Linked DNA regions of Homo sapiens. The protein of the gene in region 1 purifies or fractionates together with the protein of each later gene. This does not show direct contact. Each region holds a gene or a part of one and is shown in the gene's direction. Other genes may lie near its edges.

The links.
Region 2: the proteins of TIMELESS (region 1) and MCM3 purify together in Homo sapiens (affinity purification with mass spectrometry; 3 studies listed by BioGRID and IntAct, with this or other methods). This does not show direct contact.

The regions. Positions count from the first base shown.
Region 1 is NC_000012.12:56,425,360-56,432,649, reverse strand, and holds part of TIMELESS (protein timeless homolog), read left to right. Parts: intron 1-125; coding exon 126-281; intron 282-1,045; coding exon 1,046-1,179; intron 1,180-1,681; coding exon 1,682-1,769; intron 1,770-2,368; coding exon 2,369-2,545; intron 2,546-3,549; coding exon 3,550-3,767; intron 3,768-3,997; coding exon 3,998-4,101; intron 4,102-4,244; coding exon 4,245-4,414; intron 4,415-7,290. UniProt on the Homo sapiens protein: Plays an important role in the control of DNA replication, maintenance of replication fork stability, maintenance of genome stability throughout normal DNA replication, DNA repair and in the regulation of the circadian clock.
Region 2 is NC_000006.12:52,263,515-52,268,032, reverse strand, and holds the end of MCM3 (DNA replication licensing factor MCM3), read left to right. Parts: intron 1-26; exon of another isoform or gene 27-64; coding exon 65-168; intron 169-1,336; coding exon 1,337-1,422; intron 1,423-1,888; coding exon 1,889-1,958; intron 1,959-2,624; exon of another isoform or gene 2,625-2,647; coding exon of another isoform or gene 2,648-2,798; intron 2,799-3,246; coding exon 3,247-3,445; 3' UTR 3,446-4,018; downstream 4,019-4,518. UniProt on the Homo sapiens protein: Acts as a component of the MCM2-7 complex (MCM complex) which is the replicative helicase essential for 'once per cell cycle' DNA replication initiation and elongation in eukaryotic cells.

The DNA.
Region 1 (7,290 bases):
TGGGCTATTCTGTCCTCTGACAAGTCTGGGAGAGGAGGCTTGGTCAAAGAATGAGTTGGAGAGCTTCAAGGCAGGGCAGTGGGATTGAATGAGCTTCCTTTCTACCCTCACCACTCACTGCTCAGAAGATTGATGATGACGCCAGTGCCCATGACCAGCTCCTCTGGGCGATTCACCTCAGCGGCCTGGATGACCTGCTCCTCTTTCTGGCCAGCTCGTCTGCTGAGGAGCAATGGAGCCTACATGTGCTAGAGATTGTCTCCCTTATGTTTCGTGACCAGGTGAGACCCTGGCCTATTGCCCGAGTCCCCTCCGCCCATGTACTTTTCTGCTGTACAGCCAGAATTGCTCTTGTGATAATGGCTGCATTATCTGGGGAAGGCAGGCGACAGCAGGAGTAGCCATGTCTTGAGTTCAGTAGTACCCCCTTATTCATGGTTTTCTTTCCTTGATTTCAGTTACTCACAGTCAACCATGGTCTGAAAATATTAAGTGGAAAATTTCAGAAATAAACATTTTAGAAGTTTTAAACTTGTACATTGTTCTGAGTAGTGTGATGAAATCTTTTGTCCCTGTTTGTCCTAAACAAGATGTGAATCATCCCTCTGCCCAGCATATCCACAGTGTATACCCGCCTGTTAGTCATGTACTAGCCATCTTAGTTATCAAATTGAAAAAACATAATAGAATATGTGTATGTGCGTATATATATATGTATACATGTTCTGTTTTCTGATAACTATATATATAGCACATATATACATTCTATAAAACATAGAACGTACATGTTCTATGTATATGTGTATACACATACAAATATATATATGTATATATGAATATATACATATATATATTTCAGTACTGTCTGCAGTTTCAGGCATCCAGTGGGTGTCTTAGAACATTTCCCCCTCAGATAAGGGAGAACGACAGCACAATGCCCCATTAATGGGGTTCTATTTTGTTCACTCTTTGCATCCCCAGTAGGCGTGAACTCAGGATAAGGAATGACTGTCCTCCTGATTCTTCCCTCTTTGTTCCAATCTAGAACCCCGAGCAGCTGGCGGGAGTAGGGCAGGGACGCTTAGCTCAGGAGCGGAGTGCAGATTTTGCAGAACTGGAGGTGTTGCGCCAGCGAGAGATGGCAGAAAAGAAGACTCGAGCCCTCCAGCGAGGCAACAGGTGAGTGACAGAGAGGCAGGTTCTTTTTCCTACATCATGGAATGCTGAGGGCATAGAAGGCAAATTCTAAGGTGGGGTGATTGAACAACATTTTAGTGTTTTTTTTTTTTTTTTTTGAGACAGAATTTTGCTCTTGTCGCCCAGGCTGGAGTGCACTGGCACGATCTCTGCTCACTGCAACCTCTGTCTCCTGGGTTCAAGCGATTCTCCTGCCTCAGCCTCCCCAGTAGCTGGGACTACAGGCGCATGCCACCATGCCAGGCTAATTTTTGTATTTTTAGTAGAGACAGGGTTTCACCATGTTGGCCAGGCTGGTCTCAAACTCCCGACCTCAGGTGATCCGCCTGCCTCAGCCTCCCAAAGTGCTGGGATTATAGGCGTGAGCCACCGTGCCCGACCAACATTTTGTAGTTTTAACTTGCTCCAATGTGCCGATGATAGAGAATGGAGATAAAGTTTCCAGAGAACTGAAAAATCACCTTGGACCTTTTTGTTTCTGCAGGCATTCTCGATTTGGGGGCTCCTATATTGTCCAGGGGTTGAAATCCATTGGGGAGAGGGACCTCATCTTTCACAAAGGCCTTCACAACGTGAGTATTCTTACATCTGGAGTGGGAACATAGTGGAGTTGCATAGCTTAAGCAGGGTAATCATCTTAAGAGTTCTTGGCTGTGCCTGGTGGCTCACACTTGTGGTCCCAGCACTTTGGGAGGCTGAGGCAGGAGGATTGCTTGAGCCCAGAAGTTCAAGATCAGACTGGGCAACATGGCAAGACCCTGTCTCTAAAAAAAAAATTAAATTAAAGGTTGGGTACAATGGCTCATGCCTGTAATCTTAACACTTTGAGAAGCTAAGGAAGGAGAATTGCTTGAGCCCAGGAGTTCGAGACCAGCCTGGGCAACATGGCAAAACCCTGTCCCTACAACAAGTGAAAAATACTAACTGAGCATGGTGGCACCCGCCTGTGGTCCTGACTACTCGGGAGGCTGAGGTGGGAGGATTCCTTGAGCCCAGGAGTTCAAGGCTCCAGTGTGCTATGATTGCATCATTACACTCCAGCCTGGGTGACAGAGCAAGTTCTTGTCTCAAAAGAAAAACAAAAATTAGTTTCTTCTGAGAAAATTGACGAGAGCTGCAAGGGGAAAGTGGTATTTAGGAGTAATTCTAATCCCCCAACCGACACACCCAGCTACGAAACTACAGTTCAGATTTGGGAAAGCAGCCGAAAAAGGTGCCTAAACGTCGCCAGGCCGCCCGAGAGCTGTCCATTCAGCGCCGTTCTGCCCTCAATGTGAGGCTCTTCCTCAGAGACTTCTGCTCTGAGTTCCTGGAGAACTGTTACAACCGGCTCATGGGATCAGTAAAGGTGAGAACCTGTGAAGGATATGGAGATAATCAGGAATGGAATAGACAGGTGATGATGCAGCTGTTGGTGGGTAAGAAGTGGGGAGGAGCTCGGGGAGGCTGCCCCTGGAATGTGGACTCGTAGGTGGGAAGGATATACAGTTAGGATGTCCCTGAGAGATAGTGAAAATGCCAGGAACGAGTGGGCTCCTGGCATGACAAAAGAGGCTCTGGAAAAATTGCCTCAGAGGGAGAGGAAAGGGAGAACAGGAGAGAGTTGGAAATTGTGGATCCTAGAGTATTATAGCGGTGTCCCGGCGTGGTGGCTCACACCTGTAATCCCAGCGCTTTGAGAGGCTGAGGCAGTGGATCACTTGAGGTCAGGAGTTCAAGACCAACCTGGCCAATATGGTGAAACCGTATCTCTACTAAAAAAAAAAATACAAAAAAAAAAAAAAATTAGCCGGCATGGTGGTGTGCATTTGTAGTCCCAGTTACTCAGGAGCCTGAGGCAGGATAATCACTTGAACCTGGGAGGCAGAGGTTGCAGTGAGCCGAGATCAGACCAGTGCACTCCAGCCTCATCATGACAGTGCAAGACTGTCAAAAAAAAAAAAAAAAAAAAAAAAGACCAGGCGCAGTGGCTCACGCCTGTAATACCAGCACTTTGGGAGTCCAAGGCAGGTGGATCACCTGAGGTCAGGAGTTTGAGACCAGCCTGCAACATGGTGAAACCCCATCTCTACTGAAAATACAAAAAATTAACTGGGCGTGGTGGCGGGCACCTATAATCCCAGCTACCCAGGAGGCTGAGGCAGGAGAATCGCTTGAACCCAGGAGGTGGAAGTTGCGGTGAGCCGAGATCATGCCATTGCACTCCAGCCTGGGCAATAGAGTGAGACTCCGCCTCAAAAAAAAAAAAATTATGACGGTGTCCAGCATCCATTCCATCATCATAGGACAGGAAGGAAGAAGTTGGAAGCCCTGGAGTCATGGTGATCTTTTTTTTTCTTTTTTAAATGTCAGGATCACCTGCTTCGGGAGAAAGCTCAGCAGCATGATGAGACCTATTATATGTGGGCCTTGGCTTTCTTCATGGCCTTCAACCGAGCTGCCTCCTTCCGGCCAGGCCTGGTTTCTGAGACCCTCAGTGTCCGTACCTTCCACTTCATTGAGCAGAACCTCACCAACTACTATGAGATGATGCTGACTGACCGCAAGGAAGCTGCCTCCTGGGCACGCCGGTGAGTGGGATGGTTACTGGAGATACAGTGAGCTAGGGATCTGAATGCTTGAATTCTGGCTGGTGCTTTTTTCCTGATTCAGGGTTCAGGTGATCAGTCTGGGGAGCAAGGACTGGCTGGGAAATTTAGTTTGGGTGGCACATTTTTTTTTTTCGCTGTGGGAAGTTGCTGTTTCCATGGGCCATTGCCCTAAGCTGTCCTCCATTTCACCGTTTCCCGTCAACTCTCAGGATGCACTTGGCTCTGAAGGCCTATCAGGAGCTGCTGGCAACAGTGAATGAGATGGACATATCTCCAGATGAGGCTGTGAGGGAGAGCAGCCGCATCATCAAGAGTGAGGCCCTGGCCTGGTCCCCGATCCCAGCCTGTCCCATCTCGTGATGAGAATCTCATTCTTCCCAGTCCCAGCTTCATCCATCTCTCCTTTTCAAGCTTTCCAGAATAGCCCTTCCATCCCTTTCTCTTCCCCATTCCTAGACAATATTTTCTATGTGATGGAGTACCGAGAACTATTCCTGGCACTTTTTCGAAAGTTTGATGAGAGATGCCAGCCCCGCTCTTTCCTTCGTGACCTGGTGGAGACCACCCACCTCTTCCTCAAAATGTTGGAGCGATTCTGTCGGAGCCGTGGGAACCTGGTGGTGCAGGTACTGGGCAGCCCCACAATGTAGAAAGAGCTGTAAGGGAGAGTCAAGGAAGGGGGGCTCTTTCTTCTCACAGTTTGTACAGCTTAAGTTCATCTGTTAAACGTGCTCTGAACTACGACAGCAAGAGGTTTGTGGGTGTTGGCCAGTGTGAGTCTACTACAGTTTCCTTCTCCCATTAGAATAATCTCTGATCTGCCATAAATATTTTAGTTCAGTCAGGAAACATTTATTGAACACCTACCACATGCCAAGTACAAAAACCCTGGGGATTCATAATTTTAGAGTCTAATAATTATGCTATAGCATTTTCTGGTTATACCTTGAAAGCATTGTGGTGAGGTGGAAAGAGCCTTAAATTGCGGCCAGGCATGGTGGCGCACACCTGTAATCCCCGCGCTTGAGGAGGCCAAGGTGGGCAGATTACTTGAGGTCAGGGGTTCAAGACCAGCCTGGCCAACATGGTGAAACCCCGTCTCTACTAAAAATACAAAAATTAGCCAGGCGTGTTGATGCACACCTGTAATCCCAGCTACTCAGAAGGCTGAGACAGAATCGCTTGAATCCAGGAGGTGGAGATTGCAGTGAGCCAAGATCATGTCACTGCACTCCAGACTGGGTGACACAGTGAGACTCTGTCTCAACAGCAACACAAAGAGAGCCTTAAATTGAACTTTAGAAAGTCTGGAATCTAGTCCTGTATTGGTTATTATTGGAATAAGCTCAAGCTGGTCGTGTCGGTCTCCAGATCCATAAAGTTGGGATTGTGACAGTTGTCCATGAACCCAAAGTGGAATCAGTGAAAAGCCTAGGACAGGCTGGGCACAGTGGCTCATGCCTGTAATCCCAGCACTTTGGGAGGCCACAGTGGGTGGATCATTTGAGGCCAGGAGTTTGAGACCAGCCTGGGCAACATGACAAAACTCCTTCTCTACTAAAAATACAAAAATTAGCTGGGTGTGATGGCACGCACCTGTAGTCCCAGCTATTTGGGAAGCTGAGGCACGAGAATTGCTTGAACCCATGAGGCAGAGGTTGCAGTAGGCCAAGATCATGCCACTGCACTCCAGTCTGGGCCACAGAGCAAGACTCTGTCTCAACAAAAAACAAAAACAATTCACCAGCATGGTGGCACATACCTGTAGTCCCAGCTGCTCAGGAGGCTGAAGCACGAGGATCACTGGAACTTAGGAGTTTGAGGATGCAGTGAGCTGTGATTGAGACATTGCACTCCAGTCTGGGTGAGACCAAGACCCTATCTCTGAAAAATAAAATTATTGGTTCACATTAAAATAAAAAAAACCCTGGGACAAAATGCAAACTCCAAGGAATTTGTATCCTGGAAACACAGAGACTTTGCTTTGTATAAACAGATTTTGGGCCAGGCGCGGTGGCTCATGCCTGTAATCCCAGCACTTTGGGAGGCTGAGGCGGGCAGATCACTTGAGGTCAGGAGTTCACGACCAGCCTGGCCAACATGGTGAAACCCTGTCTCTACTAAAAATACAAAAATTAGCCAGGCATGGTCATGCGCACCTGTAATCCCAGCTTCTTGGGAGGCTGAAGTGGGAGAATCACTTGAACCCGGGAGGCGGAGGTTGCAGTGAGCCAAGATCATGCCATTGCACTCCAGCCTGGGCAACAGAGCAAGACTCCGTCTCAAAAAACAAACAAACAAACAAAAATTAGCCTGGCGTGGTGGCACACACCTGTAATCCCAGGTACTTGGGAGGCTGAGGCAGGAGAATCGCTTGAACCCAGGTGGCAGAGGTTGCAGTGAGCCGAGATCACGCCATTGCACTCCAGCCTGGGCAACAAGAGTGAAATTCTGTCTTAAAAAAAAAAAAAAAAAAGATTTTGTACCAGAACCTTCCTATAACTCTAGTTGCTACAGCTTAAAATTCTGTCATAACTGGACTTGAAAGATGCAGTAGTACCAACGAGACTTTGCTAAAGGGTATTTTTGCACTCAGAGCTCTGTGGTATTATCTGTAATACTAGGTACTATCATTTATTGAGCATTTACTGTGTGTCAGACACTGTGCTGACGTTTTCATGTAATCCTCACAGTAGCGCATGTGCCCAAAGTGGTTAAGCAACTTGTCCAAAGTCTTGTTAGTAATACTAATTCAATACTCAAATCCAGATCTGCTGGACTCCATGCTCCTAAGTTTTGGTGTGTTTGATTGTAAGTTCTTTAATGGAGCATGACCTTCAGGGGCCTCTCAGTTCATCCTGTTTGACTTTTCAGTACCCACACCAAAGACTGGTTCACAGCCCTGACTTGGGAGAAGCAGGATTTGGGTATTGACTCACTCTCCTGCTTTTCTTTTTTTTAATTATTTATTTATTTATTTATTTTTTTAAGCAGGGTCTCGCTCTGTTACCTAAGCTGGAGTGCAGTGGCTGAATCTCAGCTCACTGCAACCTCTCCTTCCCGTGCCCAAGCGATTCTTCTGCCTCGGCCTCCCAAGTAGCTGGGACTACAGGTACACACCACCATGCCTGGCTAATTTTTGTATTTTTTGTAGACACAGGGTCTCGCTGTGTTGCCCAGGCTGGTCTTGAACTCCTGACCTCAAGCGATCCACCTGCCTAGGCTTCCCAAAGTGTTGGGACTACAGGTGTGAGCCACTGCGCCTGGCTGTCCTACTTTTCAGGAGAAAAAATTAGAGGCTTTATTTACATAGTGCTTTGCATTTTATGAAGCTTTTCCATGTGTCTTATTTGATCCTCATAGCATCTGCTTATTCTGTAGACCTCTTGAGATAGCACTGCTTTTGGCAAACCTCTGAACTCAGGAAATGGGTCAGGAGTTTTGCCATGACATCTTATGCTCACTCACATTATAGCTTTTATCCACACTCTAGTGTAATTAC
Region 2 (4,518 bases), on another chromosome or scaffold:
TTCTTGATGCAGTTCCCCTGCATCAGTGACCCCTCTAGCCCAGCCACACTTGCCTTGGTCTTAGGTTCTGGAGAAGGAGAAGAAACGTAAGAAGCGAAGTGAGGATGAATCAGAGACAGAAGATGAAGAGGAGAAAAGCCAAGAGGACCAGGAGCAGAAGAGGAAGAGGTAAGGTGGGGCAAGCAAATGAGATTAAAAAGTTAGTGGCCAAGAAGTTGGGGGTGCACGCCTGTAATCTTAGCAATTTGGGAGGCCGAGGCGGGTGGGTCACTTGAGTCCAGGAGTTTGAGACCAGCCTGGGAAATATGGCAAAACTGTCTCTACAAAAAATAGAAAAATTAGCTGGGCGTGGTGGCGGACACTTGTGGTCCCAGCTGCTCGGTAGGCTGGGGTCGGAGGATTGCTTGAGCCTGGGAGGCAGAGGTTGCAGTGAACCAGGATCGTGCCACTGCACTCCAGCCTGGGCGACAGAGAGAGATCCCATCTCAAAAAAAAAAAAAAAAAGTAGTAAGTTCCAGTGGGACTGGGGAGAGAAGTAGAGGGTAGAAGGTGGAACCAGCGCTGCTTATTGATGTCAGGTTGTTCATGGAGAGTGTTCCTAGACCTGCGGGGTTTGAGGATGAAGATAACCTGGGTAGGCTGGGCGCGGTGGCTCACGCCTGTAATCCCAGCACTTTGGGAGGCCGAGGCAGGCGGATCACGAGGTCAGGAGATCAAGACCATCCTGGCTAACAGTGAAACCCTGTCTCTACTAAAAATACAAAAAATTAGGCTGGCGTGGTGGCAGGCACCTGTAGTCCCAGCTACTTGGGAGGCTGAGGCAGGAGAATGGCGTGAACCCAGGAGGCAGAGCTTGCAGTGAGTGGAGATCACACCACTGCACTCCAGCCTGGGTGACAGAGTGAGACTCCGTCCGTCTCAAAAAAAAAAAAAAAAGAAGATACCCTGGGTAAAAGAGAAGGAGAGCGAGTCCTTCTTGTGTGCTTTTGACCCCTCTACTGAAGAAATGCTAAATAGTAGGAACAGCAACCCAACCACTGAGGGTTTTGAATATATACTTCAAAATTCTAAGGGAAAAACCTTCATGCTTATAGTTGAATTTATAAGGGTGAGTGATGTGGAAAAGAGCGTTGGGAAGCAGCGCCTGTTTGTGTTCTAGTCTGGGGACTTGGTCTCGTTTGGAACAAGCAGCAGTTTGCAAAGGCCTAAGCCTAGTGCTTCACTTTGACTTAGTGGTTCTGTTTCCTTTTCTCCGTAGTTAGAGGCACGTGATGGGGCTTCCTTGCCTTTCTGTCTCCAAACTCTTTCTCTCTCTTAACTGCTGTGGGTATTTTAGAAGGAAGACTCGCCAGCCAGATGCCAAAGATGGGGATTCATACGACCCCTATGACTTCAGTGACACAGAGGAGGAAATGCCTCAAGGTGAGTGAGCCCACTTACTGATGAAAGAGGTTGTTCCTGTGACTCTTGGACTTTTCCAGTTGCTCTGTGCACTTTATTTTCTTGTGGACTCCTGTTTGTTTGGCTCCCTGCTTGGGGCCTATGTCCAAGAGGTTTGTCCCAAGAGAGCTTCAGGGGAAACTTTGGAAAAAGCTTTGCTATATTATATACACCTCCTTGATGAACTGTGCTGTGCTGTTTCACCTGGTATAAGCATTTCAGATAATATATACATTGAGGGTCTCCTGCCTGACTAAATTCCTTCATCATCCAATGAAGATTTCCCTATATCCTAATTGTTCTGCCTGGCCCCATAAGAACCCTAGGAAATAGGAGTGTTCAGCAGGCTGAGTGAGAGATTGGGAGTGGAGATGATTTCTCTAGTGTTTGTGGAAATGGCTTCACCTTGCTTATCTTCCCCATCTCTACAACCATCAACCCTCTGAAGTACACACTCCAAAGACGGCAGACTCACAGGAGACCAAGGAATCCCAGAAAGTGGAGTTGAGTGAATCCAGGTGAGTACGGATGTTGCTCCTGCCCCTTCAAGAATTCTGTGTATCGCTGAGGAAGGGACTTTGTTCCCTTGGAGAGGGTGGGAAACAAACTGCTGGTCATCAATAGAACTCAAAACTAGAGGCCTGCAGCTTTTAACATTTTATATTCTCATTTAATTTCAAACTTACTGAAAAGTTATGAGAAAAGCATGAAGAACTTCTGGATGTCCTTTACCCAGAATCTTCAGTTGTTTAAATTAATAATTCTCTCTTTCTGAGAGAGAAGAGTTTTACAATAAGGATAAAACTTAATGTCTTACTGTAACCTCAGATTCTTCTTGGTGGGATAGATACATTTTGGCCATTTGTTTTTGAAATGAAGAATTTTTACCACCAGGGTTTTAGGAAACATTTTTATCTATGAATTTTGTTTACTGGACACCAAGAAACTCCATAGCCAAGTTTTACGTTTTTTCTTTTTATACTTTAAACACATAATACAGTGTATTTACTGAAAAAAATTTGAAACACATTGAAAAGTATTTAGAAAAAAAATTAAAATCAATTGTAACTCTATCCCTCAAGGACAACCATCAACTGTATCTTAAAATGCTTGAATCAGCTCGTATAGATCTCACTTTTTTTTTTGAGACCGGAGTGCAGTGTTTATTTTTTACTTTTTTACAGTGTTTATTTTTTACTTTTTGTAGAGACGGGATCTCACCATGTTGCCCAGGCTGGTCTTGGACTCCTGGCCTCAAGCAGTCCTTCTACCTGAGCCTCCCAAAAGGCTGGGATTACAGGCATAAGCCACTGTGCTTGTTTGATCTCATTCTTTTTAATGACTGCAGGGTTTCCATGGTATGGATGGGTAAAAATTTAATGAAATTCTCTGATGATAGACATTTGGGTTGTTCCCTGTTTACAGTAAAACAGTATTAAATTTATCAGTGTGCACTCATGCAAGTATAGCTATAAGGTGAGTTCCTAGAAATGGGCTCCCTGGGCCAAAGGATATACGCTTTTAAGGGTTTAGTAAGTGCTGTTAAATTGTCCCGCATTGACGCTGACCGGGTTACTATTTTACAGTGAATGGGAATGCCAATTTCCCACACGCTAGTACAATAGTTTAGCTTTAAAGGGGGCTCCTCAAGGGTAGCACTGCCATCAGAGGCAGATGTGTGTGTGAGAAAGAATATTGAGGGGACGCCTCTACTGTATTAATACTATGGATTTTCCTAGTATAGCTGTTTCCTGAGAGCATTTGGGTTTGTTTACTCCTCTTCCCCCTTTCTTCTGTCTGGGGCAGGTTGAAGGCATTCAAGGTGGCCCTCTTGGATGTGTTCCGGGAAGCTCATGCGCAGTCAATCGGCATGAATCGCCTCACAGAATCCATCAACCGGGACAGCGAAGAGCCCTTCTCTTCAGTTGAGATCCAGGCTGCTCTGAGCAAGATGCAGGATGACAATCAGGTCATGGTGTCTGAGGGCATCATCTTCCTCATCTGAGGAGGCCTCGTCTCTGAACTTGGGTTGTGCCGAGAGAGTTTGTTCTGTGTTTCCCACCCTCTCCCTGACCCAAGTCTTTGCCTCTACTCCCTTAACAGTGTTGAATTCAACTGAAGGCGAGGAATGTTGGTGATGAAGCTGAGTTCAGGACTCGGTGGACCCTTTGGGAATGGGTCATGAAAGCTGCCATGGGGTGAGGAAAGAGGAGACAGTGGGAGAGGACAATGACTATTGCATCTTCATTGCAAAAGCACTGGCTCATCCGCCCTACTTCCCATCCCACACAAACCCAATTGTAAATAACATATGACTTCTGAGTACTTTTGGGGGCACAACTGTTTTCTGTTTGCTGTTTTTTTGTTTTGTTTTTTTTCTCCAGAGCACTTTGGTCTAGACTAGGCTTTGGGTGGTTCCAATTGGTGGAGAGAAGCTCTGAGGCACGTCATGCAGGTCAAGAAAGCTTTCTTTGCAGTAGCACCAGTTAAGGTGAATATGTATTGTATCACAAAACAAACCCAATATCCAGATGAATATCCGAGATGTTGAATAAACTTAGCCATTTCGTACACATGGTCTTAATAGTCATAGTGTGTTTTTTATACATAACATTGAATTGTTTTCCTTGAGAGCAATCGTGCAGGGTTTGCTGCTCCCGCATTTGCAGCAAACTACCACAAGGTGGCAGCAGCCTGCTGTGATCTCTGGGGGTCATGTCTTCTCTAGAGGCAGTTTTCTTCTTCAGCAGCACCAGCGTTTATCAGTCAAAATTGATAGTATAGACCAAACCCTGCCAATTTAAAATAGCTAAATGGCCACGGGAGGCTAGTGAGTAAAAGTTCAGGAGAAGAATTGCCCCTCTGCCTGGCGCTTTTTGCCTGAATCTAAACTTATCCTTCATAAAGATAGAATACCCGATACGTCAGACACCTCAAAATCCTGGGAGTTCTTGCCCATAATGAGATCTTGTTACAGTATCTTTTTTTTTTTTTTTTTTTTTTTTTTTGAGACAGGGTCTCGCTTTGTGCCCAGACTAGAGTGCAGTGGTACAATCACAGCTGATGACAGCCTTGACC